Homo sapiens: one gene and its partners. The protein of the gene in region 4 interacts with the protein of the main gene of each other region in a pairwise test. Each region holds a gene or a part of one and is shown on either strand. Other genes may lie near its edges.

Evidence for each region.
Region 1: the proteins of NEDD9 (region 4) and TBX19 interact in binary tests that used the Homo sapiens proteins (3 or more experiments, as listed by UniProt).
Region 2: the proteins of NEDD9 (region 4) and RFX6 interact in binary tests that used the Homo sapiens proteins (3 or more experiments, as listed by UniProt).
Region 3: the proteins of NEDD9 (region 4) and CDC42EP2 interact in binary tests that used the Homo sapiens proteins (3 or more experiments, as listed by UniProt).

The regions. Positions count from the first base shown.
Region 1 is NC_000001.11:168,275,356-168,284,123, reverse strand, and holds the start of TBX19 (T-box transcription factor TBX19), read right to left. Parts: upstream 3,248-8,768; 5' UTR 3,034-3,247; coding exon 2,831-3,033; intron 1-2,830. UniProt on the Homo sapiens protein: Transcriptional regulator involved in developmental processes. Can activate POMC gene expression and repress the alpha glycoprotein subunit and thyroid-stimulating hormone beta promoters.
Region 2 is NC_000006.12:116,879,454-116,887,544, reverse strand, and holds part of RFX6 (DNA-binding protein RFX6), read right to left. Parts: intron 7,002-8,091; coding exon 6,878-7,001; intron 5,179-6,877; coding exon 5,117-5,178; intron 1-5,116. UniProt on the Homo sapiens protein: Transcription factor required to direct islet cell differentiation during endocrine pancreas development. Specifically required for the differentiation of 4 of the 5 islet cell types and for the production of insulin.
Region 3 is NC_000011.10:65,309,646-65,318,494, forward strand, and holds the start of CDC42EP2 (cdc42 effector protein 2), read left to right. Parts: upstream 1-5,220; 5' UTR 5,221-5,309; intron 5,310-8,849. UniProt on the Homo sapiens protein: Probably involved in the organization of the actin cytoskeleton. May act downstream of CDC42 to induce actin filament assembly leading to cell shape changes. Induces pseudopodia formation in fibroblasts in a CDC42-dependent manner.
Region 4 is NC_000006.12:11,182,798-11,188,759, reverse strand, and holds the end of NEDD9 (enhancer of filamentation 1), read left to right. Parts: intron 1-452; coding exon 453-542; intron 543-3,088; coding exon 3,089-3,598; 3' UTR 3,599-5,462; downstream 5,463-5,962. UniProt on the Homo sapiens protein: Scaffolding protein which plays a central coordinating role for tyrosine-kinase-based signaling related to cell adhesion. As a focal adhesion protein, plays a role in embryonic fibroblast migration.

The DNA of each region.
Region 1 (8,768 bases), on a different chromosome or scaffold from region 4:
GAAAGAAAGAAAAGGAGGAAGAGAGAGAGAGAAAGGAAGGAACGAAAGAAGAGAGGCCAACATCAGGATCCCAGTTTCTGGAGATAATTCCGTGTTTTTCAGAGAAAAGCCTTTCTCTTTACAGCTTCTGATCAATGTCAGAGGCAAGCTTCCTATTTATATATGTGAAAGTAGATCTCCACTTGACAATGAGTCTTTTCACTCTTTCATCGGCCCATCTTACGCTATTTCAAGATTTGCTATTTTAGTGCAGAACAATGAGACCTCAAGTGTATAGGAGTTACCACCCCAAATGATGCTTTTTTAAAAAGTCAAGGTGACAATGTCAATGAAAAAGGGCCCAGGTGACATTATGAATGAAAAAGGCTAGGACTGGGTAATCATACCAGGAACATTCTTCTCCACAGGGAAGGGCCACAAATCTACCTGCACCAGGTGCGGGAGTTGATGTGGAGGGCAAGGATTTGAAGGAGACACAAAGAGTCTATAGACATAGGAGAATGGGTAGAAAGGAGGCATAGAGGAATAAATAGTTAGGGAGAAAAGAGAGAAGGAAGAAGGGAGTAAAGAAGATGAAGCAAGAAAGATGTCTATATTAACAAAGGTAAAGTGTGACTAATGGTTTAATCTGAGAAACTAAGAGGTTGGGGGTAATTTCAGACCAAGTTCATTCATTATTAAGTACATCAATTTCTTATGGACTTGTCTTCCCTTCTTTAATCAAAGTATAAAGGAAACTTTCTATCTCCTGGCAAAATCTTGACCCTAAAGGGCTCCGAGAGCTTAGGAGAATTTAAGAAAAAGATTTCATCTATAGGAAGACGGCAAACACAGCAGGACATCCATAGATAAGAACAGCCAAGTTCACCGCAATCAGACTTTTTCTACAAAGAATATTGTTCATGTAGCTAATATTAAATGACGTTAAAGATGAAGGATTTCATTTTGCTTTTTAAAGACAGGGTCTCACCGTGTTGCCCAGACTGATCCCGGGCTCAAGGACCCCTTGCCTCAGCCTCCTGCGTAGCTGGGACAACAGGAGCACACCACCACACTGGGCTGATGTGAAGAATATTACATTTTAAATATAGGGGAAAATTACATAGGCAATAAAAAGGCAAGATAAAACTTTTCTTAAATGGTAAAAGTACATTCCAATGTAACATATTATTAAATTGGAATTTATCATGGTTTCAGAAACTTTTATTATTTATTCCTTATTGAAATAGATGAACCATATATTGACTTGGTAATTGTACTTATTTTTACTTTAATAAATGGCCAATTTGACAGCCCAATCAATAGCATAAGGCTAGGTATTACTGTAATTAGTATCCAATAATACAAAGAAAAATAAGCAGAATGTTCTACCTATAATCAGATATAATAAAATTTTTACAGTTGCATCTTTGCCCATTTTTAAAGGGTCAGAGACTAAATCCAATTAAGAATTTGGTGTAATTCTGTGAAATTAAAACTATGTTTTATGTTTTCTTCTATGAAAGAAGCTAAAAATAATGTGTAAATACAGGTCAAGAGAAGGAACTATAATTACAGTAACAATATTAAAAGCAATAAATCTATATGAAATAAGTGTGGAACCCATTTTGAGAAAGAAAATATAAAAATCAAGCAAGGTTGATATTCCTGCTACTGGTATAATCGCAATTTCTTGAAATGCCCTAATTCAGGTATGGCTTTCATTTTAGAAAGCATTTTAATGCCATGTAACAGCTCTCGAGTTCATAACTCTTCAAGATTGACAAGAAATAGTTCATTTTCTATACTGTGCTTTATTAAAATATAGAAAACCGAGACATCAGGAACGGAAGCACTTTGCACAAGGACAAAAGCCTGACAGAAAGAAGTTCAGATGGCCTCGGCTCTTCTCTTTTATCAGAATTCTCTCGAGGGTGTCATAATTAGAGTTCAGCCAAAACTAAGCCTACTGAAAATGCCTTTCAGCATTTTGTACTTTTGTGACCATGTGTATGAAAAGCTATGTGAACACCAGCTGAATGTTGGAGCCAGTTTGGCCAAGCTGCGAGCGGTGAGATTTTGTTTCAAAATATTTGCGTCTCCTCTACGAAGTGAAATCTTCTAATATTACCTGGACAGCCCCTTAGCAGACTAGGTTTAATAGAATCTGAGAAATGCCACCAGAGATCAGTTTCAGTTAATCCCTAAATTTGTTGCACTGATAAGAAAGAAGGCATCTTCTTTTCTCTAAAGCAGAATAATATGTTTTCATCCACTATTACTGCAACAGCTTTCATATCATCACAAACACACACAATCTCAAATGAACACTCACCACAAACACACACGGGGAAGCAGATGAAGTGATAGGCAATGAGTTTACATTTGCCCTTTTGCTTCCAATCTTCAACTAGCCAAACATTTCTGGCAAGTTTGCTATACTTAGGAGGAGATCATCCAGCTTCCAAATAAAGTTGTCTTTCACCTTATCTGGACGGAGTTGGGGCTCAGGTCTGCGATAGGGTATGCAGCTAGTCACAAATTAATATTATTTTCTGACATTTAAGTCCATTTTCCCATCCCAATGGGGCATGCCCCCCACTTTATGGTAATTTCCCCAGAATTTCTCCATTTAAAATGCACATAAGACAGGTGGCTTCATCCTCTGATGATCTCAGATAAATTAATTAAGTTGGCTGGAGGAAAGCCATTGGAGACAGTCGTTCCTGTAAGCATGTTTAATCAGATCCCGCCGCCTCTGAGTGAAGAGCGGCAGCCTCTTCAATATTCAAGGGGTCTCATCTCTCCTGCCAAGCCCTGCCAGCCCACGCGGGGCGGCAGATAAACTCACCTGCCATTCTTGGTCACAATCATCTCATTAGTGACTTCCTTGAATCTCTGCCAGAGAGGTGCATCCTCCAGGATGATCTGAAGTTGCTTCTCCGTAGGGTCGCCTTTTTCCCTCCCTGCCTGAAGCTCACTCTCCACCACATTGAGCAGATGAGAAACAGTGCCATCGCTGGGCTTCCGAGTGCCCAGCTCACTCATGGCCATAGGCACTTCTCGAACTTTGCCGAGAGCCGTTACCCAACTTGCCTGCTTCTAGCTTCTTCCTTCCCTCACTTGCCTGCTTTTCAAACCCACTTGAACAGTGCTTGGGGAGCGGAGAGAAGATACCCTGGCTCTTGCCTAAGCTCCTAGGATGACACCCCTTAAAAGTCTCCACATTATGCCACCAACCTGTTAAGCTTTAGTTGGGGAGCGGGGTGGAGGCAGGGGAGAGGTAGGGAAGAAAAAGCCCTCTCTTAATTACTCATTGGATCAGGTGGGAGAGAGCCTGGCTTTCCCATTGGCTGCCGTGCACAGAGTAGATATTTAAGAAGAGTACTCCATCCAAATTATCAGGCTTTTATCTTGTTGTACCTGAAGAGGTCTAATCGGTGTATTGAGGACCATTTTCCCATTAATTAAAATTATTCCAGGCCCAGACTGCACTGTCAGGCAAATCATGTTTGTGCATAAATCATGACATGTGGCACCTATAAAGAAAAGGGTCCTGGGGAGAATCGACAAACTTGATGCCCAGGCTATAAGCTACTCTCCAGCATCTTAGACGAAGGCTCTGGAGGGAAGAAAGCATGTATGGAAGGTCCAAGGCACTGTGCCAAGAAACATGACTACTGTACCAGAGAATAAAGGAAGACACTCTGTGTGCCACTGCTCAAGGGTCAGGGCTCCGGAGAAAAGAAAAGAGCTCAGAATCTCTTTCTCCCAGGGTGTCCCCTACTGATCATCTCTCTCCTGAATGTCCTATACTCGCTCACACCCCACTTTTCTCAAGGGCCCTCCTCACCTCCTACAAATGGAGCTGTGAATGTTGTCCTTCCTCCCTAGAGTCTAGAACCCCAATTTTTGTTATCTCTAGCCTTTGCCAGAGGAAGACAAAAAAGCAGCTAGTATCATATTAATCTCGCTAAGGAACACTCTGCCCCCAGTCAGTGAAAATAAACTGTTTACATTATTAGGCAGAGCAATTTCAATCTTTGGTCCAGAAAGGCATTCTGGTTTTCTCTTTAGACAATTCATCCTTATTTTGGCATTCCAGGATGAATCCCACATTCCCTGGGAAGAAACACTAGTAGAAAGCTTTTCTTTTGCCCACAACACACAGTACTAATGGCGAGTGAGTGGATGGCGGGTGGAAGAGACAGGAGCAGAGGAAGCTCTACCTCCTCTGGCCCCCAACCTTGAGTAGAGCCTGGGGGTTGTGAGTTTTTCTCTCATTTCAATACAAAGTAAGAAAACAAGAACATAAGGAAAACAAACCCAAAAAGGTAAGATAAAGTCAGGGTAAGGATGACAGAAAATGTATTCAGGATCTCCTATGCTACATACCTATGAAGCATCACATACAGCAAGGAACAAACAGAAATGGCCTGCGCCTTTACAGAATTAACAATATGATGGAGAAAATAAATGATATAAAGTAAACAACAACTAAGTAATTATCAATAGTGATAAGTCTATGAAGGCTACTTAAAAGGGTGAAGTGATCAAGAAAAATTTGTGCACAGCAGGGTAGGGAACTCCAGTTAGATGGAGTTGTATAGAACAGCTTCTTTGAGGAGGAGACATTTCAGATGAGACCAAAAGCTCAGCAAAGATGTAGTCGGGGAAGAGTTGGCAGAGTGCCAAGCAGAAGAATTACATGTGAGAAGCATGGCTTGAGCCAGGTAGAAATCTCCAGGGAGGCCAGTGTGACCAGAATGTGGTGGTAAAGAGAGCAGAATGAGATGTTCTTTGAGAGAGGGCCAGGCCAGACCATGAGGCCTTAGAAGTCATGATGAAGAATTTGAATGTTCTTCAGCATGAGATAGGAAACAATTGGAGAGTATTAAGTAGGAAAACAGCATGATTGGCTTTGTGTTTGCAAAAAATCTAATCGATTTGTGAAGAATAGACTAGGAAAGGGCAAGAGCTGAAGTAAAGAACAAATTAGAGGCTATGACAGCAATTCAGGCAAGAGCTGGTGATGGCTTAGCCTAGGGTAGTGGCAGTGGCCAAAAAATGAAGTGTACAGGTTCTAGATACACTTTAGAAGTCTATATGACAGAACAACATGAGAGACTGGATATGGGGGTGAGGGAGAGCAGAGAACCATGTGCCTGATCAGAACAATTATTAGATGGCAGGGCCATTTACTGAGATATGGAAGGTGAGGGAGGTGGAAGGGTAGGCAGAGGTACAGTTTGGTTAGGAGACTCAAACATTTCAGTTTCATACAGCTAACACTGAAAAGAATGTGGCAGGCTGAATAAGGACCCCCTGCAAAAGAGACCCATTTCCGAATCCCCAGAACCTGTGAGTGTATTACCTCACATGGGAAAAAGGGACTTTTCAAATGTGATTCAGTTAAGGGTCTTGAGATGGGGAGATTAACCTGGGTTATCTGGTGAGCCCAGTGCAATCGCAAAAATAAGAGGGAGGCAGGAGGATCAAAGTCAGAGGAAGAAGATGTAAGGACAGATGCAGAAGTCAGAGGGGAGAGAAGATGCTACACTCCTGGCTTTGAAGATGGAAAAAGGGGCCAGAAGACACGGAATGTAAGAAGTCTCTAGAAGCTGGGAAAGATAAGGAAATAGATTATCCTCTAAAGCCTCCAGAAGGAACATAGTCCTGCTGACACCTTGGCTTTAGTCCAGTGAAACTAATTTTGGGCTTCTGATTCCCCAAACTGTAAGATAATAGGTTTATGTTGTTTTAAACCACTAAGTTTGTGGTAATTTGGTACAGCAGCAATAGGAGACTAATGCAAAGACTATTAGGTATATAAGTGGAGATTTTGAGAAGGCGCTGCTTAGAACTGTGACACAATTGTGGCTCTGAGCTTCCAAGCAGCCAATGCAAAGTGGGGGAATATAATCTGGCATACATTAAACTGTGTCCCTAAAATAAAAGCAAGCCTTGACCTGTGAGAAATTTCCCCCATAAATCTTTATGAGGAAAACGCTGTGAGATACAGTGAACAATGTCTCCCCAAACAGTCTACCAGTAAGATAAAAATCTTTCCTTCAAATAGTTTTACAATCTAGAAGGGACAGAAAGACACGCTTGTGGAATTCCAATACAGAAATGTGAAGTGTTCTGAAGCACCAGTAAGGGAGAAATGAAGAAAAAACAGAACTAAGACTGGAATATGACAAGGATGACCACTTACACTACTGTTATTCAACATAATACTAGAAGTTCTAGCTACAGCAATCAGACAAGAGAAAGAAGTAAAAGACATCCAAACTGGAAAGCAGGAGGTCAAATTATCCTTGTTTGCAGATGATATGATCTTATATTTGGAAAAAACTAAAGACTCTGCCAAAAAACTATTAGAATATATAAACAAATTCAATAAAGTTGCAGGATACAAAATCAACATACAAAAATCAATATAGCACTTCTATAGGCCAACAGTGAACAATCTGAAAAAGATATCAAAAAAGTAATCCCATTTACAACAGCTACAAATAAAATAAAATATCTAGGAATAATCTTAACCAAAGAAGTGAAAGATCTCTACAATGAAAACTATAAAACATTGATGTAAGAAATAGAAGAGTACATTAAAAAGTGGGGAGATAAACCATGTTCATGGACTGGAAGAATCAATATTGTTAAAATGTCCATACTACACAAAGCACTCTACAGATTCAATGCAAGCCCAATCAAAATATCAATGACATTCTTCACAGAAATAGAAAAAAAAATCCTAAAAATTCATATGGAACCATAAAAGATGCAGAATAGCCAAAGCCATCCTGAGCAAGAAGAAAAAAAACTGAAGGAATCATATTACCTGACTTCAAATTATACTAAAGAGATATAGTAACCAAAACAGCATGGTACTGGCATAAAAACAGACACATAGACCAATGGAACAGAATAGAGAACCCAGAAATAAATCCTACAGTGAATTCATTTCCGACAGAGGTGCCAAGAACATACATTGGAGAAAGGACAGTCTCTTCAATAGATGGTGCTGACACGAACTGGTAAACCTAAAAGAAATGACCAAATTCCTGAAAACATACAACCTCCCAAGACTGAACCAGGAAGAAATTGAAAGCCTGAACAGATCAATAACAAGTTTCAAAATTGAATTAGTAATAAAAAAATTACCAACCAGAAAAAGCCCTGGGCCAGATGGATTTACAGTTGATTTCTACCAGACATATAAAGAGCTGGTACCAATCCTACTGAAACTATTTCAAAAAATAGAGGAGGAGGAACTCTCCCTAACTCATTCTATGAGGCCAGCATCATTCTGATACCAAAACTTGGCAGAAAAAAAAATCTTCAGGCCAATATCCCTGATGAACATACATGCAAAAATCCTTAACAAAATACTAGCAAACCAAATCCAATTCACCACAATCAAGAAAGCTTTATTCCTGGGATGCAAGGTTGGTTCAACATACATAAATCAATAAATGTGATTCATCAAATAAATAGAACTAAAAACAAAATCTGCATGATCATCTCAATAGATGCAGAAAAGGCTCTTGATTAAATTCGACCTTGCTTCATGTTAAAAATCCTCAACAAACTAGGCATCAAAAAGGAACACATCTCAAAATAATAGCCATCTATGACAAACCCACAGCCAACATCATACTGAAGAGGCAAAAGCTGAAAGCATTTCCCTTGAGAACAGAACAAGACAAAGATGCCCACTCTCACCACTCCTATTCAACACAGTACTGGAAGTTCTAGCTGGGGCAATCAGGCAAAAGAAAAATAAAAGGTATCCAAATAGGAAGACAGGAAGTCAAACTATCCTTCTTTGCAGACGATATGATTCTATACCTAGAAAACCCTACAGTCTCTGCCCAAAGGCTCCTAGATATGATAAACAAATTCAGCAAAGTTTCAGGACACAAAATCGGTGTACAAAAGTCACTAGCATTGCTATACACCAACAATGTCCAAGTTGAGAGCTAAATAATGAATGCAATACCATTCACAATAGCCACAAAAAACAAAAACTAAAACACCTAGGAATATGGCTAACCAGGGATGTGAATGATCACAACAAGAATTACAAAACACTGCTTAAAAAAAAAAATCAAAGATGACCCAAACAAATGGAAAAACAGTCTATACTCATGAATAAGAAGAATCAATATTTTAAAATGGCCATACTGTCCAAAGCAATTTACAGATTCAATGCTATTCCTGTAAAACTACCAACATTTTTCACAGATTTTGAAAATATCATTTTAAAATTCATTGGGACCAAAAAGGAGCCCAAATAGCCAAAGCAATTCTAAGCAAAAAGAACTAAGCTTGAGGCATCACACCACTCAACTTCAAACTGTACTACAAGGCTACAACAGTAATTACAATAGCATGGTATTGGTACAAAAGTCGACACAGAGATCACTGGTACAGGTTAGAGAACCCAAAAAAAGAAACCATACGCCTACAACCATCTGATCTTCAACAAAGCTGACAATAGCAAGCAATGAAGAAAGGACTCCCTCTTCAATAAATGGTACTGAGATAATTGGCTAGTTATCTCAATCTTCTCAATATGCAGAAGATTGAAACTGGACCACTATTTATCACCAAATATAAAATTCAACTCAAGTTGGATTAAAGACTTAAATGTAAAACCTAAAACTACAAAAACCCTAGATGAAAACCCAGGAAATATCATTCTGGACATTGGTGCTGTCAAAGGCTTCATGATGAAGACTTCAAAAGCAATTGCAACAAAACAAAAATTGGCCAGGTGC
Region 2 (8,091 bases), about 110 Mb from region 4:
CAGATAATAAAACCAGGTGTATACTTTTGGAATTGGTAGTAAAACTAAAGGGAAGAAAAGAAGAAACATGAAAGTAAAGTCAATTTTTATCTTGGTATTGGGAATGTACAGTGTCTGCCGCTGGGGTTGCTGGTTTTCTTGGCTGGCAGGGGATGGTAAGCGTGAAGGAACTGGATAGAGAGCTGAGCTGCTAATGGACCTGCAAATTGACTGGCTTTGTCCCCAAAGCACACTTGTTAGGTGCCCTAGAGTGACGCTTCCTGACCCCTCATGTTCATCTTTAGAGATTTTTTTTTTCCATAACCATCAGCAGCAGTGGCCTTTGATGTGGAATGTTGAACTTGCCACTGAAAACAAATTACTCCATTTTTAATTGTTCCTAATTTTGACAGTGGATGATATCTGGCCCTACACAGTGATCCTGTCTGTTTAGATTTTTTTGTTTTATTATTTTTTTATTTTTGTTTTGTTTTGTTATGTTTTGAGATGGAGTCTCGCTCGGTCGCCAGGCTGGAGTGCAGTGGTGCGATCTCAGCTCACTGCAACCTCCGCCTCTCAGGTTCAAGTGATTCTCCTGCCTCAGCTTCCTGAGTAGCTGGGACTACAGGTGCGCACCACCACGCCCAGCTAATTTTTGTATTTTTAGTAAAGACAGGGTTTCACCATGTTAGCCAGGATGGTCTCAATCTCTTGACCTCCTGATCCTCCTGTCTCAGCCTCCCAAAGTGCTGGGATTACAGGTGTGAGCCACCACATCCAGCCTATTTTTTTTTGTTTTAATATATCTGTTTTAAATATTTTATCTCTTCCATTTAATTGAATAAATTTTGGGCTCATTTTATACAGTCAAACTTTTTCATCTTTCACTTTTCAGTGAGGGAAAGAAGTAGCACATGCACAAATGTGAGAGCTGTGAAGACATTACTGTAATTAACAGCCAGTTATTTCAAAACTTAGGAAAATAGAACTTGAAAATAGACACCACATTCATTCATGATTTTTAGGCCCTACTAATCATCTCTTTGTCACATAGATTAGTGTTTTCCAAACTTTGGGTTTTATATAGGGACCAGTAAAATTTAGAGAGTGACATTGCTTCATGAACCTCAAAGACATCTAAGAACAATTTTTAAAAAGAGGGTGCTATCTCATGCCCAGAGTACAGGAGAACCTTTTGAGTCAATCATAATCTAAAATAAATTCTGATAGTCCCCAGTGAGATGACTGGACATACTCTAGCTATCCTATAATAATTTGGCCAAACTGAGAACTCATTTTTTAAGTAATCATCATCAGAACAGTTTCACAATGTTTGTATGTATTAGTATGCAATCCAAGGAAGTTAAAATAAATATCACATTTATTTATATTTTTTAAATAATTCAACAAATATTTAGTAATACTATGCTAAAAGTACTGTATTAAACACTACAATAACAATAAAATGTTTTGCAAAATTACTAGTAAAATTGGGAGAAATTATGATTCCCTGATTTTCTAAGGTATACTTACTTTATATTTCTGTCTTTCATTCAGTTGTTCATATTTCCATAGAAACATAAAAATATTTTTATAAAATGTAAGTTTATGAAATAATAGCCATTAGAAATGTTTGCAAAGATAATATATAACAGAGACATGTTTAGGACTAAAATTAAAAGGCAGAAAATAAAATTGTGCTACAAATTTGCTGTTAATATAAAACACAAATACCTCTAAATTAAATGCCTTACAATTGTGGCATGGTAAAGTGTTGTTTGTTCTCTGAAGAAGAATCTAATATGTTAATAAAGTTTAAGAACTGTTAGATCTGTTAAAAAAAAACTTAATAAAACTTATATGTCAAAAATCAAACATTCAATTGAATAATTATTTGTTGATACGATTGATATTGGAAAAAAAGTAGTAGGCTTCCCTACTTTTACTAGCAGATAAAACATAAACTTTAGAGTCAGATATACTTTGATTCAAATGCCAGCATTGTTATTATGTATTATCTATGTGGCCTTGGGCAAGCCAATAACCTTTGAAATGCAATTTCCTCATTTGTAATACAGTAATTCCTATCTTCTATCATTATTGCAAGGATTAGAGATGAGTGCATGCATCTGTGTGTGTGTGTAATACTCAGTAAATAACTTCTAATTGTAGTGCAGATATTTTATATTGAGTCATTAATTTTTTATTATTAAGGATAGTGCGGTTGAAAGCATATTCACTACTATATTCATTCCTATACTTTATCTCATTTAACTCTCACAACAATCCTATAAGATATTGTATACCCACTTTACTGGTGAAAAGCTGAATAACCTTACAATAAATCACTAGCTGGAAAGCTGGTGTCACACAGCTATACATGGAAACATCAGATTCATGTTTAAAGTTGTCCAACTTTAAAGCCTATGTCCCTAACCATTAGGCTATACTGCCTTTTGATATTCTATCTTCCAAGATAAAAGCTAAGGATATTTCTTGGAAATAAAGGCAGAAACATACCTAGCTAAGAATAATTATGTCAAAAAAATTACTATTTACAAGATATACAAACTACATTTTGCTATATTTTTACCATATGTAGTTTAAATATGGAAAATTAATTTTTCTCTATGATATAAACATATCAAAAAAGTCACGTCACAAATATCAAATGGCATATCAGCACAGCAGAAAAAAATTCAAATTGTTAATGCCTTGCTGTTGGGCACATCTATGGCTCTTGGATTCAAATAAATTGCCCGAAGTCACCCCATGTTGTTACATCAACCTAAGTACTAGAGCCCCACTGTGACACAATGGACAGGGTTAATGATTCATCCCTAATCCTAAAGGCTCCTTCAAAGATTAATTGACTTTCCCTGCAGCCTGCCAGCCCACCCTCTTATAGATCCTGTCAAGAGGGTTTCTCTTCATTGCTCGGCCTCTTTTCCCCCTATCTATTTACTTTAAACACTATCTGATCTTTCCTCAACCAATACAATTCAGTAGGAATCAAATTCAGTAGAAATCAGTCAGTTAAACTGATCAAACTTTGAAATAAAGTTGACTTGGTTAGAAGGAAGGGACCCATTTTGCCTTTTTGAATCTGGCACTTTATTTATTCTTTCCAGGCCACAATAATGTTAACATTAATTGCAATCAATTAAATAAGTATTAATTGATAATCTATTATATATCGACCAACAGAAAGAATATAAAAGTGAATGAGACAAAGTTTCTGTCCTCAAAATATGTATTATCTGTTTAGAGGAGGAGATAAGTTAATTTCACATTAAGATAGGTACCAGCAAACTGCCACAGGGTGCAGAGAAGGGACCTACAATAAATCAATGGACTAAAAAAAGATCTAAAGGAAGAAGTTCAAGAGACATTCTTTCAAATGGGTAAAATTTCAACATACATATATGGGAAAAGGCATTCTCCAGGGGAAGACAGCATAAACTTAAACAGAAGACTGGCAGTTGGAGTGAATCAAAGGTTACTGGGATAATTATTTGGTGAGCACATAGACTACATGCTAGAAAGTAAGAAATAGGTGACATAGTAAAATGAACTTGGACTAAATCATGATGGACCTTGAATGTCAAGTTGAGGAAAGTTTGTTGTTAATAGTAGAAATTATGAGCCAGTGGAGGTTTTGAACATGGAAGAGATATGATTGAATCTCAACTTTAAAAGGTCAGTTTGGAAAAATTGCATGAATGGACAAGAAAGACAGAGTCAAGGCCAGGCTATGAAAGTAGCAATGAGGAGAGTCATATTCAAAAGAATTCAAAAAGTAGGACCTATGTTTTTGCAAGTGTCTAAAGCTGAGCTATCCAATAAAGCAATAAAGCCACTGGCCATATGTGGGGGTAAGCACAGGAAATGTGGCTAGTCTAAACTGAGATGTGATGTAAGTGTAAAATACACACTAGATTTCAAAAACGTAGTATGAAAAGAAGAATGTAAAATATCCGATTAATAATTTTTATATTGATTCCATAGTGAGATAATAATGTTTTGGATAAATTGGATTACATAAAACATTAAAATTAATTTCGCTTGTTCCTTTTTACTTTTTAAACGTGGCTTCCAGAAATTTTTGAATTAAATATGTGGCCACATTATACTTTCATTGATCAGTGCTGGATGTGATGTCAGGGCAGAAGGAGGCAGTGGACAAGCCAGAAAAGGAGTGGTAGAAGAGGGAAGAGGGCCTAGATAGTACTATGACAGAGAAGCTATAGAGGTAGTTTTCTGTATTTATTTTAAGAGGGCATTATCAGTTGGTTCAAATGCTAAGCAGGAGCCAAGGAAGATGAGTAACAGTAAAAACCAGCCATTGGATTTTTGCCCAGGTAGGAAATGGACTAGGTCAGAGGGATGTGATCAGTGGTAAGGGAAGCAACAGCTCAAAGGGGGAAATACTAGAGCAATCATGAAGGTTGGAACTTTTTTCTTTCTCAGCATAAAGGAGATCTGGACATGCTCATAGGCAGAAGGAAAGGAGAAACTGAAAACACAGTACGCATAGAAAATAGCTGTTGAATGAGAAACTGTACCTGGGAGTTCTCCAGAGACTGCCACAACAGAGAGGAAAATTTAAAGACATAAAGAGGGGGAATGTGTGACAGCTTAGTTTATGTTTATATTTACCTTAAGAGATGACCAAACAGGTCATCTGTGCATGTCATTTGTCTTAAAGAGAAGAGAAGGAGATATCAAGAAATTATTGTCTCAGAAAGAAAACTAGAGGAAGAACCTGAAGCATGCTAAGGCACTTCCTTCCTACTCAAAGCTCTTTACCCCCTGGTTTGGGCCTTGCTCTTTGGGAGCGTTGCATTCCTCCTCATAACACTGGTGCCTTCAGTAACAGCTTTAAGATTATGAAAATGACTCATTTAAATTATTTCAGCAGAAATAATAATACATTATTATTTTCAAATGTAAAATTTGCTTTTTAAACATTATTCTAAAATCTTTTTTTTTTTTTCAGTTCTCACAGTTGATAAAAGTCTGCTTCATCAAGAGAATACCTGGTTCTCTTTGTACTGACAAAGACAATACTTATTTTACATCTGTGTCAATCTTCATGCACAAGAGCAGAACCTGAATATGTTCACTGGTATCTTACTTTGAATGGCCTCTTGTTCCAAGCCGCCTTGTTGTTAGGAGGGGAAACTTCTGGCGAATTGTCTAAAAAGAAAGATGATTACTTTAGGCGTTAGAAAGTATATGGTCCTAATGCAAGCCACTCATAGCCAATTACTTGGGGAAAGTAAATGTTGAACTCTGAATGAACTGTGAGTGAATACTTAGTCTGGAAAAAGTAATAACTTACACATATTGATAAGCAATACATCAGCAGAGGCAGGGAGGTACTTTTTTGATTGAAGTGCTCTACTGACCTTGTCTTGATTTCTAAGGCAGATCATACCAATATCTGCTTTTGCTTGATGGTACTACCAAAGCAATTATTACTTTATTTATGTATGGAGTGAGAAGATTTGGGTCTCTTCATATAATTCCATACAGAGATTTACCCACAATTAAAAATCTATTCCCAACCCCAAAGGACATATAAAACTTTCTCTGCCTTACTGTATCTCCATTATAATGTTATAAATTTTTTGTTTTGTATGTTCCTTTCTCTAAAGTTGCTAAAATTAGGATCTGATTAAACATTTTTTAAAAAGTCTTCTACATAAAACAATTTTAACCTCAATCTTTGAAGATCCATACATGAACTTTAAAGAGCTCCATGGCAAACTATGTATGTATTAATTTCTTGGAGGCTGGCTCTACAGTTTTACCAGGTTTTCAAGGTGCTTCATGACTGCCAAACAGTTAAGAATTATTCCCATAAGGTAGACTCACAAAATGGTAATGTTAATATGGATATTAGAAGTTGTCTTATCCAAACTCCTCATTTAATAGAATGAGTAAACAGATTTTTAAAGAGATTAAGTGCTTTTCAGAAGGTCTCACAATAAATTAGTCCAGTCTAGGCTAGAACCCAGGTTACCTGATTACAATGTATAATATCACACTCTCTCTGTAAATAGATAGGTTTTTGAAATAAATAACATTATTTTTTAAATGAGAAGCTGGACTGTAGTATTCATTATTTTCTGGACAATGAGTCCCTCTACAGGTTAGAATCTGGATTTCAATTTGTGTAAGATACAATATTTGAGACCCAAGCTTCCTAAAGTTTTTCTGGGATATCCTAGGTTCTCAAACACAGCATGACATGAATCTTAAAGAACAAGGCTTTCTTAAGACATTCATATTGATTCTCAAAGTGATGTCTCTCTCTCTATATATAAGCATAATAATGTCAGTTATATAGATTCCCATCCTAACCACACAGGTTGGGTAGAAAGAAATATTTTTAAATGAGAGAATTCTAACCCATCCCATCATAAAATCTTGGGATTTGGAATGTAAACATAGAGTGAAATGGAGAATTAGGAGAAATTTTAATACATTTTAAAACCTATTAAAAACTCATATATTTGGACTAGGTAAATAGTATGGATAACCACTAACCACTAATTGCATTAGCAAGAGACTTGTCACCTCCACTTAATTTTGCTTCTTACCACAGGCCATACTATACACTTTAATGCATCCCTCTTTGAAGGCAAATGCTACTGCTTAAACAAAGCTTGCTTTAAATTCACATTAGATCTTCTAATAGTTAGGGTTCTAATATTCAAAATCAAGTTATAAACATATAGCAATTCCAAACAGAGTCCTTAAGACAATTTATGCCTGCAAAACAAATGTCTCAATATTCTCTAAGAGAACTTGCACAGATGAATTCATTTTCATGCTATCTGCCTGACATGACTTTAGTTATAAGTCACTATAGCCAATACGTGTCATTTACCTTTCCAAAGGTGGCCGCACAGGCTGGCTCTAATTTCTCTTTCCTACAGAAATCTAAGTAGTGTGCATAAAGAATGCACCGTGGTAAGCAAACTCCTTCACATACAATGTAATTCTCTTCAAGCCTAAGAAAAAGGAACAAAAATTAGGTCAAATATTTTATTTCCTTTTCCTTCAACTTTCTCATTGACTTATTACCCATTTTGAATATGGACTCTATAAATGAGGTAATGAGTAGACATAAGTAGACTTCGTTTATTCTGGATATTTTTTAAAAATCAAATTATAAGGATTAATGTTAAAAGTACAAAACCCCAGTGAAAAATCTGCTAGTACAGTTAAAATATCATGGCTAACATAAAACCATGCCTGGTCCACATCACAAATATTAGGTCTTCTATATAAACCTCATGGTTCATCATGATTTGCTCTGTGACATATAAATATGAATGGTGAAATTGAAGATGATGGGTATTTTTTAAAACATTCTTAGTACTAAAGGGCTGTCAAGCTTCAGGTTGGCAAATGCTTACATTCTCTCACTTTCATTCAAAACCTATTTCTCAGCCCTGAATAATTAGGGAAGGACAATGATGCATTTATTTGCAAAACACATGAGGATAAACTCATTTTACTTAAGTCTGAAATGACACTGATATATTTCTATTCCTATACTTTTTACTACTGTCATCAGTACTATAATTATCTAAAACATCCTATACACTTAAAAGATAATGTAATTCTCTATAGATATCTCCAAACATAACATATATACCTTCAACTTTATATTATAAAAATAACTATATAACCTTTGAAAATTTGAAGTAATTCCATTTAATTTGTAACTAAGCATAACTTATATAAATGTAATAAATACATATTTGTGTTACAACTTTCTAAACAGCAATGTAGAAATTAAACTTTTAGATTCCAATCCCAGTTTTCCTAACAGTTCAGTAGGTGATTTTGACTAAAATTTACTTATACCAATTTTATGTATAGTAAGATAATATTTATTATAATGCAGAAACGATGCAATATAGAGTCTGCAGATTAAAATTGGATGAAACCCTTCAAAGATTTGATTTAAAATATCCTAATGTGTACAAGATAAAGGCTAAAGAAAGTATTCCCTGAACAGGTAAAATATCACTCATTTTTTTAATGAAGAACAAAAAAAGACCAAAAACTAAGATCTAGTGTTTCAAAATATGA
Region 3 (8,849 bases), on a different chromosome or scaffold from region 4:
CTCACCTCGTGATCGGCCTGCCTCAGCCTCCCAAGGTGCTGGGATTATAGGCGTGAGCCACCGCGCCCGGCCTTTTTTTTTTTTTTTTGAGATGGAGTCTTGCTGTGTCACCCAGGCTAGAGTGCAGTGGTACAGTCTTGGTCACTGCAACCCCTGCCTCCCAGGCTCAAGCAATTCTTCTGCCTCAGTCTCCCAAGTAGCTGGGACTACAGGCGTGTGCCACCACGCCTGGCTAATTTTTGTATTTTTAGTAGAGACGGGGTTTCACCATGTTGACCAGGCTGGTCTCGAACTCCTGACCTCAGTTGATCCGCCCACCTCAGCCTCCCAAAGTGCTGGGATGACAGGTGTGAGCCACCACATCCAGCCCCAGATGCCCTTTTGGATCCTGCCCCTGAGGTAGCAGGGTGTCCAGGAGCCCTTCTGTCCAGGACAGTCCAGGCCCTGGCTGAGGCATCAGACCCTAGGGTCCAGGCTGGGGGATGCAGCGCTTGGCCTGAGTGTCTTGGGTCAAAATGCAGGCCACGCTTCCCCGTGGCTCAGGCTATTCCAGCCTCCCTACCCACACCCCAGGCCCCTACATATAGCCTGAGAACTTGCACAAAAAAGCCAAGTTTAGTAAATGAAATCCTGTTTTATACATGGCCTTATGAATGGCAGGGCTCCCATGGCGATGCTGGGTGTGCACACAAAGATCCTGTCCATTCAGCAGAACCTCCTCAGGGATCCCCTGGGCCCCAGCCAAGTGACAACCACATCTGTGAATGGGGAGAAGGAAGCGCCCTCCCTGCATGCTTGCACAGCGCAGAACCCAGGGCCAGGCGCCGATCACTCCTGCGATGTGGACTTGGTCGGGCCCCCTGCTCTGAATGACAGCAGGAGTGGATTGAGCGGCAAGGGGACTGGCACTGGGCGGAACACGTCACATCCAGGTGGGTTGAAAACAGTCCCCAGAGTGCAGATAGCATTTCTAGTCCTGGTTGGAAGGCTCAGGGAGGAAAGCAGGAGCTTGGACCAGGTTTGCGGGCTCTGCTGCTCTCTATCCCTACCCGAGGGACCCCTAATCACCCACCCCCCACAGAACTTCTTCAAAGAGCTCCGGGGTTGGTCCCCAGCTGTGTGTGGCCTTGGGTGAGAGGCTTTGTTTCTCCATCTTCCATCCCTGTAACTCTGTTTTGTCCCCAGCTCTGAATGGAGTGCCTGACCCTTCCCTGACCGCTACCCCCCAATGGAGGACTCTCAGCAGATGGGCAGGGGATGAGGGCTTGGCCTGAGCCTCATTCCCGCAGGCTTAGGTGGCTTCATCATTACAGCCATTCCGATCAAGCAGCACAGCCAGCTGGCCAGGCCCCAAAGCTCTTGTCTAATGTGTCCGTGAAACAATGCCACCTGAGGGGCTGCGTATTCCCATGAACAAAATACATGCATGTCCATCCCTTATCTGGTTTGGGACTTGCCTGACCTGATGCTACTACCCCATATTATAGGCAAGGAGACTCTGGAAGGGAAGGTCCTTTGCCTGTGGCCACAGAGCAAAGCAGCAGCAGAGACAGCTCAGAATCTGACTGATGGCTCAGAGGCCGGGGCTCAAGGCACTCAGCTGCCCCTCCTCTCTGAGAGCTGTGTCCTGGGGATGGGCAGGAATGATGCCTGTGGGGTTAGAAGCCTGAGAGAAGGAGGGGCCAGAGCCCACATGCCTTGCCACTTCTAGGCTCAGCAAATCACTGTCGGTGCCCTGAGCTTTAGTTCCCATCTGTAAAATGGGGATCGTGATTCAGGCTCTGGCCACGTCACTAGGCACCCCCAGGAGGATGTAAAGAATTCAGGAACATGAAGCAATGGGTAAAGGGCACAGGGCGGCCTGGCAAAGTCCCATGGCAAGAATGGGGAGAGGCACACCCTTTACTCACCCCTACCACAGCTTGGCCCAGGGCCATCATTGCCACTTACTCAATGGTCCAGGCCTGTTTTCCTCCAAGCTGCCAGGCCATTCCTGGCAGAATCCACCTGACCAATACTCCCTGCAGAGTTGAGGGCACACTCAAGATTAAAACCTGAACCTCCTTGGATTCGTTTTCTATCACTGCTACAACAAATTATCATGGAATAGGTGGCTTAAAACAACAGAAATTCGTGATCTTACAGTTCTATAGGTTAGAAGGTCAACATGGGGCTGAGCGAGGTGGCTCATGCCTATAATCCCAGCACTTTGGGAGGCCAAGGTGGGTGGATCACTTGAGGTCAGGAGTTTGAGAGCAGCCTGGCCAACATGGTGAAACCCTATCTATACTAAAAATACAAAAATTAGCCAGGCATGGTGGCGGGCGTCTGTAACCCCAGCTACTCGGGAGGCTGAGGCAGGAGAATCGCTTGAACCTAGGAGATGGAGGTTGCAGTGAGCCGAGGTTGCACCACTGCACTCCAGCCTGGGCAATAGAGCAAGACTCTATCTCAAAAAAAAAAAAAAAAAAAGGCCAATGTGTGAGTCTCACTGAGCTAAGATCAAGGTGAGGAGGTGAGGGCAGGGCTGTGTTCCTTCTGGAGCCTCTAGGGTAGATAGGGTAGAACCTGTTTCCTTGTATTTTCCAGCTTCTGAAGCAGTTCCTTGGTTTGGGGCCTCTGCCTCCATCTTCAAAGGCAGCAACACATCATTTCTCTGGCCCTTCAGTCATCACATCTCTCTCTTTTTTTTTTGAGACGGAGTCTCGCTGTGTCACTCCAGCTAGAGTGCAATGGCACAATCTCGACTCACTGCAACCTCTGTCTCCCAGGTTCAAGCGATTTTCCTGCCTCAGCCCCCCAAGTAGCTGGGACTACAGGCACGTGTCACCACACCCAGCTAATTTTTTGTATTTTTAGTAGAGACGGGGTTTCACCGTGTTAGCCAGGATGGTCTTGAACTCCTGACCTTGTGATCCACCCGTCTCAGCCTCCCAAAGTGCTGGGATTACAGGCGTGAGTCGTGAGCCACCACGCCCGGCCTATCACATCTCTTTCTCTGTCTCCTGCTTCTACTTTTAAAAACCCTTGTTATTACACTGGCCCACCCAGATACTTCAGCATAAGCTATTTTAAAGTCAGCTGATTTGCAACCATAATTTCATTGGCAATTTTCTTTTTTTTCTTTTTTTTTTTTTTGAGACGGAGTCTCGCTCTGTCGCCCAGGCTGGAGTGCAGTGGTGCGATCTCGGCTCACTACAAGCTCCGCCTCCCAGGTTCATGCCATTCTCCTGCCTCAGCCTCCTGAGTAGCTGGGACTACAGGCGCCCGAGTAGCTGGGACTGCAGGTGCCTGCCACCATGCTCGGCTAATTTTTTTTTTTTTTTGTATTTTTAGTAGAGACGGGATTTCACCATATTAGCCAGGATGGTCTCGATCTCCTGACCTCGTGATCCACCTGCCTTGACCTCCCAAAGTGCTGGGATTACAGGCATGAGCCACGGCGCCCAGCCCTCATTGGCAATTTTCATTTCCATTTCTCATGTAACAAAACATATTCATAGATTACACAGGTTCGGATGTGGGCTTTTTTTCTTTTCTTTTTTTTTTTTTACATGGGTTTTTGCTCTATTGCCCAGGCTGGAGTGCAGTGGCGTGATCACAGCTCACTGCAGCCTTAACCTCCCAGGTTCAAGCAATTCTCCTACCTAAGCCTCCAGAGTACCTGGGACTACAGGCTTGAGCCACCATGTCCGGCTAATTTATTTGTTGTAGAAACAGGGTCTCACTATGTTGCTCAGGCTGGTGTCAGTGTCAAACTCCTGGACCCAAGCAATCCTCCCACCTTGGCCTCCCAAAGTGCTGGGATTATAGGCATGAGCCACAGCACCTGGCTAGATGTGAACATATTTAGGGGGGCTGTTATTTTACCTACCATGATCCCCTTCTTCCCATCCGGACCTCCCAGCTTGTCTGGCATCTTCCCCCACCCCCAGCATCCTGCCTCCCCCACTGAGGTCTTCCCGGCTCTGCCTCCCTAAAAGCCCTTCCCACACTGACAGCATTGAAGCCAACCATCCTGGTCACACTGAGCTGGCATAGCTGTCATCCTCTAGAAAGTGAGGTCTGTCCACCCCGTCACTACCCACCACTTCCTCTGCCCCACTCTTCTTAGCACTTACCCACCTGGAAGGGTATCATGATGTACCTGGGAACTTGGATTTCCCCCATTTCCCTTCTCTGGGCTGCAGGTCCCAATCCAGAGGCTGAATCCCCAGGGACAAGAACAGCGCTAGGCACTTGGTAGATACTCAACAAATCTCTCTTGAGTCACTGAGAGGTGCAGTTTCCTTCAGTCTGTCTCCAGCACCCTGTGCGGTGCCTGCCCTTCAAAACATGTTTCTGGGCCGGGCGCGGTGGCTCACGCCTGTAATTGCAGCACTTCGGGAGGCCGAGGCGGGCAGATCACTTGAGGTCGGGAATTCGAGACCAGCCTGGCCAACATGGAGAAACTCCGTCTCTACTAAGAATACAAAAATTAGCCAGGTGTGCTGGCACATGCCTGTAATCCCAGCTACTCGGGAGGCTGAGGCAGGAGAATCTCTTGAACCCAGGAGACGGAGGTTGCGGTGAGCAGTCTGGGCAACAAGAGCGAAACTCTGTCTCAAAAAAAAAAAAAGTTTCTGGCCCTGTAGGAATGACTGACTGACTGACTGAAAGAATGAATGGACCAGGAACTAGTCTGAATATGAGCCCCACCTTCACTCTGGAAGCCTGACAGCAAAGACGGGGGTCCAGGCCACGCGGCCTCTGCCTTCCCATACTGTCTTTTCTAGTGGGAGGTAAACTGATCAACTAGCTTGTAAGTTTGTAGTATTCTAACGTAGGCGCTTCCAAGGAAGTCGCTGAATATACTTGTGCCGGCGCTTCCCCGACGCAGCCCTGCAGGGAAGGATCCGGTCCAAGGTCTCTCTGCGATTTCTGAAGAATTCGGTCTTCCCGGAGCCTCTCCCCCGGCTCTTCTAGAACCGAAGGTTTTAGTTCCCATGGGCACAGCCGGAGGCCGCCTGCGCCACCCGGCCCTCAGCCGCCAGAACCAGGACAGGACTCCAGGGCGCGCGCGACCGCTGGACCCGGGAGCGGCACCTCCCACGCCGGGAGCCCCGGGCGGTGCCCGGAGTGGGGCGGGGCCTGGGCGGGGATGGGGAGGGGCTTGGCTGGCGCGGCCCCGGCATTGGCTCCGCGGGCCGGGGCGGGGCTGCGGGGTCCGCGGTGCACTCTGTAAGTTCACCGCCGGTCGGGTCCGGCCGCCGCGCTGTCCAGCTCCTGAGACCTTGCTGTCCGCCGGTCTGCCGTCTGCGCGCCTCACGGTGAGTTCGGGCTGGGATTTTCGCAGCTTCGCGGGGGTCCCCCGAGAGGCCCATCTCTGTGGCGCCCCGCCCCAGCTCGCGCCCTGGCTCTGCCTCTCACCTCACTCAGTTCCTTTCGAGGGCTCCTAGGGCTCCATGGGGCTTCCCACCCGCATCTGGGTTCCCGCAGCCTCGCCCGTGCCCGCCACGGTCCGTGGGGGCGCAACGCATCCCGACCCCGAATTCCCCGTTCTGCCCTCCATTTTGTGTCCGGGCCCCCGCCCCCCTCCCGAGACCCAGGGGTGCCCCGCCGCCCAGCATCCCCACCGGGGCTGGGGGCCGTATTTTTAGCCGATAGTGAGTTGTTCTCCTATCTTTAGCTGCGGCCGCGAATGTCCTGAAACGGATCCGGGCTGGGCTGGGCTCCGCCCGGGTAGGAGTGGGGAGGGGTCGGCGCAGGAACCCGAGCCGGAGCTAAGGAGCCGGACCCGTGGGAGGGGCGGGGGCCCGCACGCCCGAGCTCTGGCCCTGTGCCGAGCGGACACTAGGACATCGCCCAGGCCGGAAAGCACAGGGGGGAGGCTCCTCCCAGAGCTTGGAGACTAGGGCAGGGTCCCCAATCGCCCCCTTTTTCCCCGATTGTGGGACCAGAAACCCCGAAGCAAAAAGATCTCGCAGGTAATCCCCATCTGGTACTTGAACGCGCAGCTCCTTGGGGACCGCCTGCCTGGAGCCCGGGGGAGGGGCGCTGGAGACCCCGGTGCGCTCTCGGAGTCCTCCGGGACACGAGGCGATCAAGGGAGCACGCGCGCCACCTGGCGGCCGCGGAGCCGGGCACCTCTCCGGAGGCACCGGGACCCCGGGAGACCCAGCGGCCGCTAGAGGGTCTCTGCATCCTCGAGGTCTAGGAGGGCGGGAGGAGGTGGACGCCTGGGGTCAGGAGCCCTTCGTTTTTGCTATTGTTCAAAGCACTGGCCCCGGAGAATCGAAGTGCTTGAGGAAGGAAGGCCTTGTAGATATTTGCTGAATGAATGATAAAACCTACAGTGACCCGCTGAACCCCGCTATTGTACATTGGCGCTCTCACCTGCAATATTGCAGTGGGATCTCCAGTGGCCCTTTAGTGGTGGCTTCGTTGTCAGCCCATTTTATAGATGGGAAAGGTGAGACCCAGAGAGGAGAGGCGTCTTGCTGAAGGTTACTGAGGAAGTCCCAGGTGGAGCTGGATTTAAGGACAGTCTCCTGATTTAGGAGAAGAGGGGGTGTGAGGTGGCCTAATATTCTTCATGATAGGAGGATCCCTGCCTGCCGGAAGTCATTTTCTCATTGGGAGGTCCAGGGCTCCTGTCCAGGGCAATCACAGAGAGCTAGGATGCTCCTATCTGCTCCCCGACTGCTGCAGGGAGCTCCCCTCCCAGCTCCCCACAGCCCTGTCCTGATGGAGACCTCATTCTCATATCTCTGGACACATGAAAGTTGGGCAGACGGGGGCAGCCAAAGGTCAGGATGTAGATGGAGGAGATCTGGGGACCCACTGTTCCCAGCCTAGCTGTGAGCCCCTTTCTCTCCCGCTCCCCAAACATATTATGGAAGTAGGCGTGGCCCACTGCATGGGAACCACGTGGACCAGGCTGGGTACCCACTCTTCCACTTCCTAACTGGATGACGTCGCCAATGTTACTTAACATCTCTGAGGTTCAGCTTCGACTTCTGTAAAGGGCCGTAATGACCCCACCATGCCGTGACTGGGAGCTTTAAGATGAGAAACTGTGCGTGGCAAGCTGGATCCTAGGGTCTTGCAGTTGCCAAATCTAAATTCCTGGGGCGTGAGGGTTGTAATTCCCAGCTCTCCCCTGGGCCGCTGATGCTGGCCTCACCCTCGATTCTCCCCACATCTGGAATTGGGTGTGTACATCTGGCTGTGAGTGAGACAGCTGTCAGGGACGCCCAATTTGTTGTGGAAACACTCAGGCTGTCTTGGCGCTGCCGTGTGATGGGGTTGGGGGTGCGGGGAGGACCTGGCCCAGGCTCTGGGTACATCCCACCAGTCAGCCCCACGCTCCATGAGTGAAAAGGAAGACAAGCCCCCCCCAGGACTTCTCTCCTGACGAGCGACAAATTGCATGTTTGTCAGCATGGCCCCCAGGCCTGGCATGGTTGACACAGGATGAATGCGTGACGGGATTCCAAGACCTCAGGGTGCCCATGCGTCCCCACCCTTCCCCCAGCTCCTTGCAAGCTGAGCTGGATTTCCGCCACGGGAGAGTCATTCCTTTGTTTCCTGTTAAGCTCCAGGTGCTCTGGGAGGGGTAAGATGTCCGGCCTCTGTGGCTCAGTACGACTGACCCGGGTGTCCGGTCCTGGGGTGGGGTTTCCTGAGCAAGGGCCTCAGCTGGTGGGGGGAGGGGGGCAGTTGGACTCTGCTTCTCCTGCATCCTCCTTCCTCCTTCCTGCTCCCGCCTCCCAACCCCCTCACCCCCACCCTCACCCTGCCCAGAATGAAAACTGAGGCAAAGAACTGGCAAGAGCCACCTTTGGTGAGCCCCTGGCTGGGCCTGGGGAGGGAGTGGTACAGGAGGGTGGGCTCATCTGGCTTGAATTCCCATGCTGCCCTTACTCACTGGGTGACCTTGGACAAGTTTCTCTCTTTGCCTTTTATGCTGAGTCTACATCTGGGCTCATGTGTACTGGACCAATCAGGTCCCATGTGCGTCCCCCACCCTCAAGCAGAGGGAGTGCTTGCTTCATTTCTTTTTTCTGTTAAATCAGTATGACACCCCTTCATAGCTATTTATTTTTACACATTAAAAATAGCTTAATTTTTTTCTGACTACATAAATATGTGCATATAAATAATACATTGCTTATTAGTAAGAATTTGAATTCATAGAGGTCTGAACAAGAAAGGAAACATCAACCTGAAATTCTACCACTTTGAGAAAACCACTGTTCCATCTTTTCATATTTATATATATTACACACATTTATCATGTCATAGTCATGGGACCAAAATATTATAGGTTATTTTTATTGATGACTCCTTTCCTCCCATATCAGTGACCCCACCCCCCATCCCTGCTGTGTACCCTAGTCAAGGTAGCCCATATGACAACCTAGGGCTGGCCTTCTAGATTTTTCTCTGTGTTTTAAATTTTTTTTTTAATTTTTTTTATTTTTTTTGAGGCGGAGTCTCACTCTGTCACCCAGGCTGGAGTGCAGTGGCACGATCTAGGCCCACTGCAACCTCTGCCTCCTGGGTTCAAGCAATTCTTCTGCCTCAGCCTCCTGAGTAGTTGGTATTACAGACTTGTGCCACCACACCTGGCAAATTTTTTTTTTGAGACGGAGACTCTCTCTGTTGCCCAGGCTGGAGTGCAGTGGCGCGATCTAGGCCCACTGCAGCCTCTGCCTCCCGGGTTTAAGTAATTCTTCTGCCTCAGCCTCCCGAGTAGCTGGTATTACAGACCTGCGCCACCACACCTGGCAAATTTTTTTTTTTTTTTTTTTTGAGATGGAGACACTCTCTGTCCCCCAGGCTGGAGTGCAGTGGTGCGATCTCAG
Region 4 (5,962 bases):
ATGGAGGCATTGAACATTCATCTTACTGGTTGTCTGACCCTGCACAGTGGGAACTACTGCCTTGGAGCAGAAATCTATAGATGATTTGAGGGAACTAGAAGTGAGAGGTGGACCACATTTAGACCTGCATTTGGGGGTTTACAGGTTCACATATAATCTATGAGAAAAGAACCCAGAGACTATAAAAAGAACATTATATATGAGATTTGAAGGGAATCATGAGTAGCTCTCCGAAAATTTTAAGGTGCCCCAGAAAGCTGGCACCCTATATGGCAATGGGCTTTATTTTTCTGCCACCCCTGTCGTCTAGGGTTCACAGTGCCTCACTGGGCATTTGAGATGTTGCCAAGGCAGTGGAAAATAAAGAGTATTTACTCATCCGTCAATGAAATTGTTAGCATAAGTGAATCACAGTGATGACATAATATGTTCTTTATGTTGAAAATTAACAGGGTAAGGAGGAGTTTGAGAGGCAACAGAAAGAGCTATTGGAAAAAGAGAATATCATGAAACAGAACAAGATGCAGCTGGAACATCATCAGGTAAGTTCAATCAGAGCAAAAACTGCTTGGCATTGGAAAGATTTCCCACCTAGCACTAAGGAAAGGTATCACTTCAAGAGATTATGATTTTGATTCTTCCAGCTCACTGGCAGGAATCAGCTCCAAAGCACGGAATGGGGTTTAAAAGCAAAGAGAAGGTTTATGACCTTGTTAGTTCAACTGGGTGTACCTGGGTTCCATCTAAACGGCAATTTTTTTAAAGGCTAAACCTGCATATCTAACATATGAGGACTATTTGGGTTAAGGCATTTGGTCTCAAGAAACAAGACCCATTCAAGCTAGCCTAAGCAAGCAGGTTTATAGTAAAGCCACAGTAGGGGAATTCAGTAACAGAAAGTGAAGATAGAGCCAGGTCTGGGGAGAACTAGAACTGTAAATTATCTCTCCTTCTTGTAGTTCCTTTGCTTCTTTCTATCAGTCTACTTCACTCTCACCTATTTTCTGGTTTTCTCTAATTATCTACTCATTTGGCTCCCCTGTAACTTTGCAGAACCCATAAATGGCCACTCAGAACTTCTATAGATGGCTTTTCATCTCGGCTTCCTCTTCCGATGGTTAGCTCCCTTCTCTTGTTCATCAGATTCCCAAGAAAGAGTCTGATTGGGCCACGTTGATTGGGCCATTTCTCTTTCTCTCTCTCTCTCTCTCTTTCTGTCTCTACCTCGCTATTTGTCTCTCTTTCGCCAGCAACACAAGCCTATGGTTTGCCTGGCCTTGGTCCAATCTAAAGGTAGGAGAGCAGAATTCAATGTTTTCAACATATATCCAGGCCTATCTACTGAGGACTTTGGGCAGGGCATGTTCATTCAAAAGCTGGGTATGAGTAGGGGAGATAATGACGACTATTGCTAGAACAAGGGCATACAAATAAAGAGAGATGGATTGAGGATTTATTTACAAGCCTTTTAAGATGAAATGAAGTGAAATGGCATGTAATGACATGAAATGGCATGCTATATTTAGGAAATCTGAGTTCTAATCCTTTCTGGCCAACCAACTATGTCAAGTCAGGTAACCTCCCCGAGCTTCAGTTACTTCCCTATAAAATGGGAAAGTACCCCCCCCATCTAATGACATGATATATTGATGAACATATTTGCATAAAGCCTAAGATATATAAAATATAATCCATTATGATTAAATACCTTGGAATATCACCTTGTACCTATTTATGTTTGCCTTGGCATCTGGCAAGGTAAGACTGCAGGGCTTTGGGGAACTTGTAGAAACCATAGCAATCGCTAAGAAGAAAACAGATTCTAGAAAAGTAAAGCTGTTGAAGGCTGGGCACGGTGGCTCACACCTGTAATCCCAGCACTTTGGGAGGCCGAGACGGGCGGATCATGAGGTCAGGAGATCGAGACCATCCTGGCTAACACAATGAAACCCCGTCTCACTAAAAATACAAAAAATTAGCCAGGCATGGTGGCGGGCGCCTGTAGTCCCAGCTACTTGGGAGGCTGAGGCAGGAGAATGGTGTGAACCTGGGAGGCGGAGCTTGCAGTGAGCCAAGATCGTGCCACTGCACTCCAGCCTGGGTGACAGAGCAAGACTCTGTCTCAAAAAAAAAGAAAAGTAAAGTAAAGCTGGCTGTGCATCTCTCAGAGAAGCTGGGGAAGCTGGGTGAGGTGATCACTGCTCCAGCTCATCCCTACGTCCAGGTGGGAGATTAACTGAGTCTGAAGCTCAGGTCACAGATAGTCCTTATCTGCAGAAGAGAGGTCTCTCTTGAGTCTTAGTGGAATCCCTAGAAATTATTATAATTGCAATTTAAATAATACACCATTTGGTAGCAATGAGGAAAGAAGGAAGAAAGCCAGCACCTGATGCATCTGACTCTGGGTAAAACCCCCTTCTTTTAACAGCTCTGGGGGACTAAATATTATGATGCACAATTCCCATTCAGACTGCCTTAGAAACTTTTTTTCCTTAAGTGCTCATATATTTATATGCATTAATCTTCCTGTAGTGCTGGATCATAACATGTCTATCAATCTTGACAGAAAGAGTAGGATAAACAGAAAGGGGTCATGAATGGTCATTTCATCTGAGCATCCTGAGATAGTCGAGGCTTTCTCCGAGAAGGAGCAAACTGTCAGTGACTTACTTGACAAGGAGGTCACTACATTTGGTTTTCCCTTGCCACCCCTCAACATTAATAAACATTTACATAGAGCCTACTACATACCAAACTATTATAAGCATTTTGTAAACGTTAACTCATTTAACCTCCATAAAGGTGTAGGTAACAGGGCTGCGGTTTAAACACTATGCTACCTTCTAGCCAGAGGGTACAAGAGACCAGTAGTCCAATCATAGAAGGTCTGAGCTTGAGGATCATCTTTCCCAACGTCTACATTTTACAATTTAGGAAAGCAAGGCAGCTTGACCCAGGCTTTACAGCTCACATGCATCTGACAGTTACTAGCGACTAAAATCCCTGTCTTTTAACTCCAAGGCCTAGTGAATTTCCATTGCAACACACTCCCTTGCTCTAATGAGATCTGCTTTCGTCTTCCTTGCAGCTGAGCCAGTTCCAGCTGTTGGAACAAGAGATTACAAAGCCCGTGGAGAATGACATCTCGAAGTGGAAGCCCTCTCAGAGCCTACCCACCACAAACAGTGGCGTGAGTGCTCAGGATCGGCAGTTGCTGTGCTTCTACTATGACCAATGTGAGACCCATTTCATTTCCCTTCTCAACGCCATTGACGCACTCTTCAGTTGTGTCAGCTCAGCCCAGCCCCCGCGAATCTTCGTGGCACACAGCAAGTTTGTCATCCTCAGTGCACACAAACTGGTGTTCATTGGAGACACGCTGACACGGCAGGTGACTGCCCAGGACATTCGCAACAAAGTCATGAACTCCAGCAACCAGCTCTGCGAGCAGCTCAAGACCATAGTCATGGCAACCAAGATGGCCGCCCTCCATTACCCCAGCACCACGGCCCTGCAGGAAATGGTGCACCAAGTGACAGACCTTTCTAGAAATGCCCAGCTGTTCAAGCGCTCTTTGCTGGAGATGGCAACGTTCTGAGAAGAAAAAAAAGAGGAAGGGGACTGCGTTAACGGTTACTAAGGAAAACTGGAAATACTGTCTGGTTTTTGTAAATGTTATCTATTTTTGTAGATATTTTATATAAAAATGAAATATTTTAACATTTTATGGGTCAGTCAACTTTCAGAAATTCAGGGAGCTGGAGAGGGAAATCTTTTTTTTTCCCCCTGAGTGGTTCTTATGTATACATAGAAGTATCTGAGACATAAACTGTACAGAAAACTTGTCCACGTGCTTTTGTATGCCCATGTATTCATGTTTGTTTGTAGATGTTTGTCTGATGCATTTCATTAAAAAAAAAACCATGAATTACGAAGCACCTTAGTAAGCACCTTCTAATGCTGCATTTTTTTTGTTGTTGTTAAAAACATACCAGCTGGTTATAATATTGTTCTCCACGTCCTTGTGATGATTCTGAGCCTGGCACTCCCAAATCTGGGAAGCATAGTTTATTTGCAAGTGTTCACCTTCCAAATCATGAGGCATAGCATGACTTATTCTTGTTTGGAAAACTCTTTTCAAAACTGACCATCTTAAACACATGATGGCCAAGTGCCCAAAAGCCCTCTTGCGGAGCAAATTTCAGAATATATATGTGGATCCAAGCTCTGATAGTTCAGGTGCTGGAGGGAAGAGAGACCTGTGTGTTTAGAGGCCAGGACCACAGTTAGGATTGGGTTGTTTCAATACTGAGAGACAGCTACAATAAAAGGAGAGCAATTGCCTCCCTGGGGCTGTTCAATCTTCTGCATTTGTGAGTGGTTCAGTCATGAGGTTTTCCAAAAGATGTTTTTAGAGTTGTAAAAACCATATTTGCAGCAAAGATTTACAAAGGCGTATCAGACTATGATTGTTCACCAAAATAGGGGAATGGTTTGATCCGCCAGTTGCAAGTAGAGGCCTTTCTGACTCTTAATATTCACTTTGGTGCTACTACCCCCATTACCTGAGGGAAACTGGCCAGGTCCTTGATCATGGAACTATAGAGCTACCAGGACATATCCTGCTCTCTAAGGGAATTTATTGCTATCTTGCACCTTCTTTAAAACTCACATATGCAGACCTGACACTCAAGAGTGGCTAGCTACACAGAGTCCATCTAATTTTTGCAACTTCCTGTGGCCAGTGTGTATAACCCCTTCCACTATCTCACAGATAGTCACAGCGTCCATTCCATAGTCTGTCTCCTCACATCTGTTAGTATTGACACAGCACAGACACCACAAGCCATCAGGTTCTTCATGGGGCAGGTGAAATACTTCTACCCCATGGGTAAATGTATTCACATATTACCAAGAGAAGAAGCACATTATCTATGATCTTTTGGCCCAGTTCTTATTTAGCATTTTTATTCCAGCCTACTTGGAAACATGTTTTTATTTGCAATATATGCCTGACTGAATTAAGCTTGCTTGTTTTAAACAACCAAATCATTGGAACAGAAAAGGATTTAAAAAACAAGAATGCATGATCTCAGAGTGATTAAAAAAAAATCAGTGGAAATAAATGATCATAGAAGGTGCTTTTCAAAACAACTGCTATTATAATTCTCAAAGTCCTACTCTGCCAAAAGAAGATTAAAAGTCATACATTACATTACAAGGAAATGTTCATGTGGGAAGAGGGTTGCTGAAAATCAACAACGCTTGAAGTTAAAAAGTGTGTCTTTGTAGATTTCATTGTATAATGTGTATTTCTTAGGAGATGGCTGACTTGATTGATCTACGCTAAGTGGAGACATTTCACATTTTTAAAACCAAATGTTCAATCTGTATTACTCTTTGCCGTCTTGTATGTAGAGGCTATTTTTAAATCATTAAATTTTTAGATCTCTGTTTTCATAGCCACTGGGTTTTCTTTTTCATACTCCTCTGTCACAGAATTAAATATTGGCTTACTTTGGTACTCCTAATATAAAAAGTTAAATTATGATTATTTTAGCAATGCTATAGGTCTGGATTTTTTTAGGAAAATTGAGGGTTTGGTTTTCTCTGTATATGTGTCACTTCCAAGTGTATTTGCATTCAAAGAAAATTCTAGAATCTGTGAACATTATCAAATTCAAATATCTGGAACAAGACTTGTGTTCACCAAAAAACCCATACACTCAGTAACATATAGGATGATTTGTTTTCATAATATGGATGTTACCAGTCATGTGGTTTTTAGAATCAAAGAAAATTTTTCTATTTGTTTTGGAATAGTCATAAAGAAATAATTTAAAGCAAACTATATTTAATGAAAATAAGAGATTTGTAATCATGTAATTATCATTTTTAATGGTTGGCCCACTCTTTTATTCAGGTATCCCACTGAGATTTACAGACAAATTATTTAAATGTA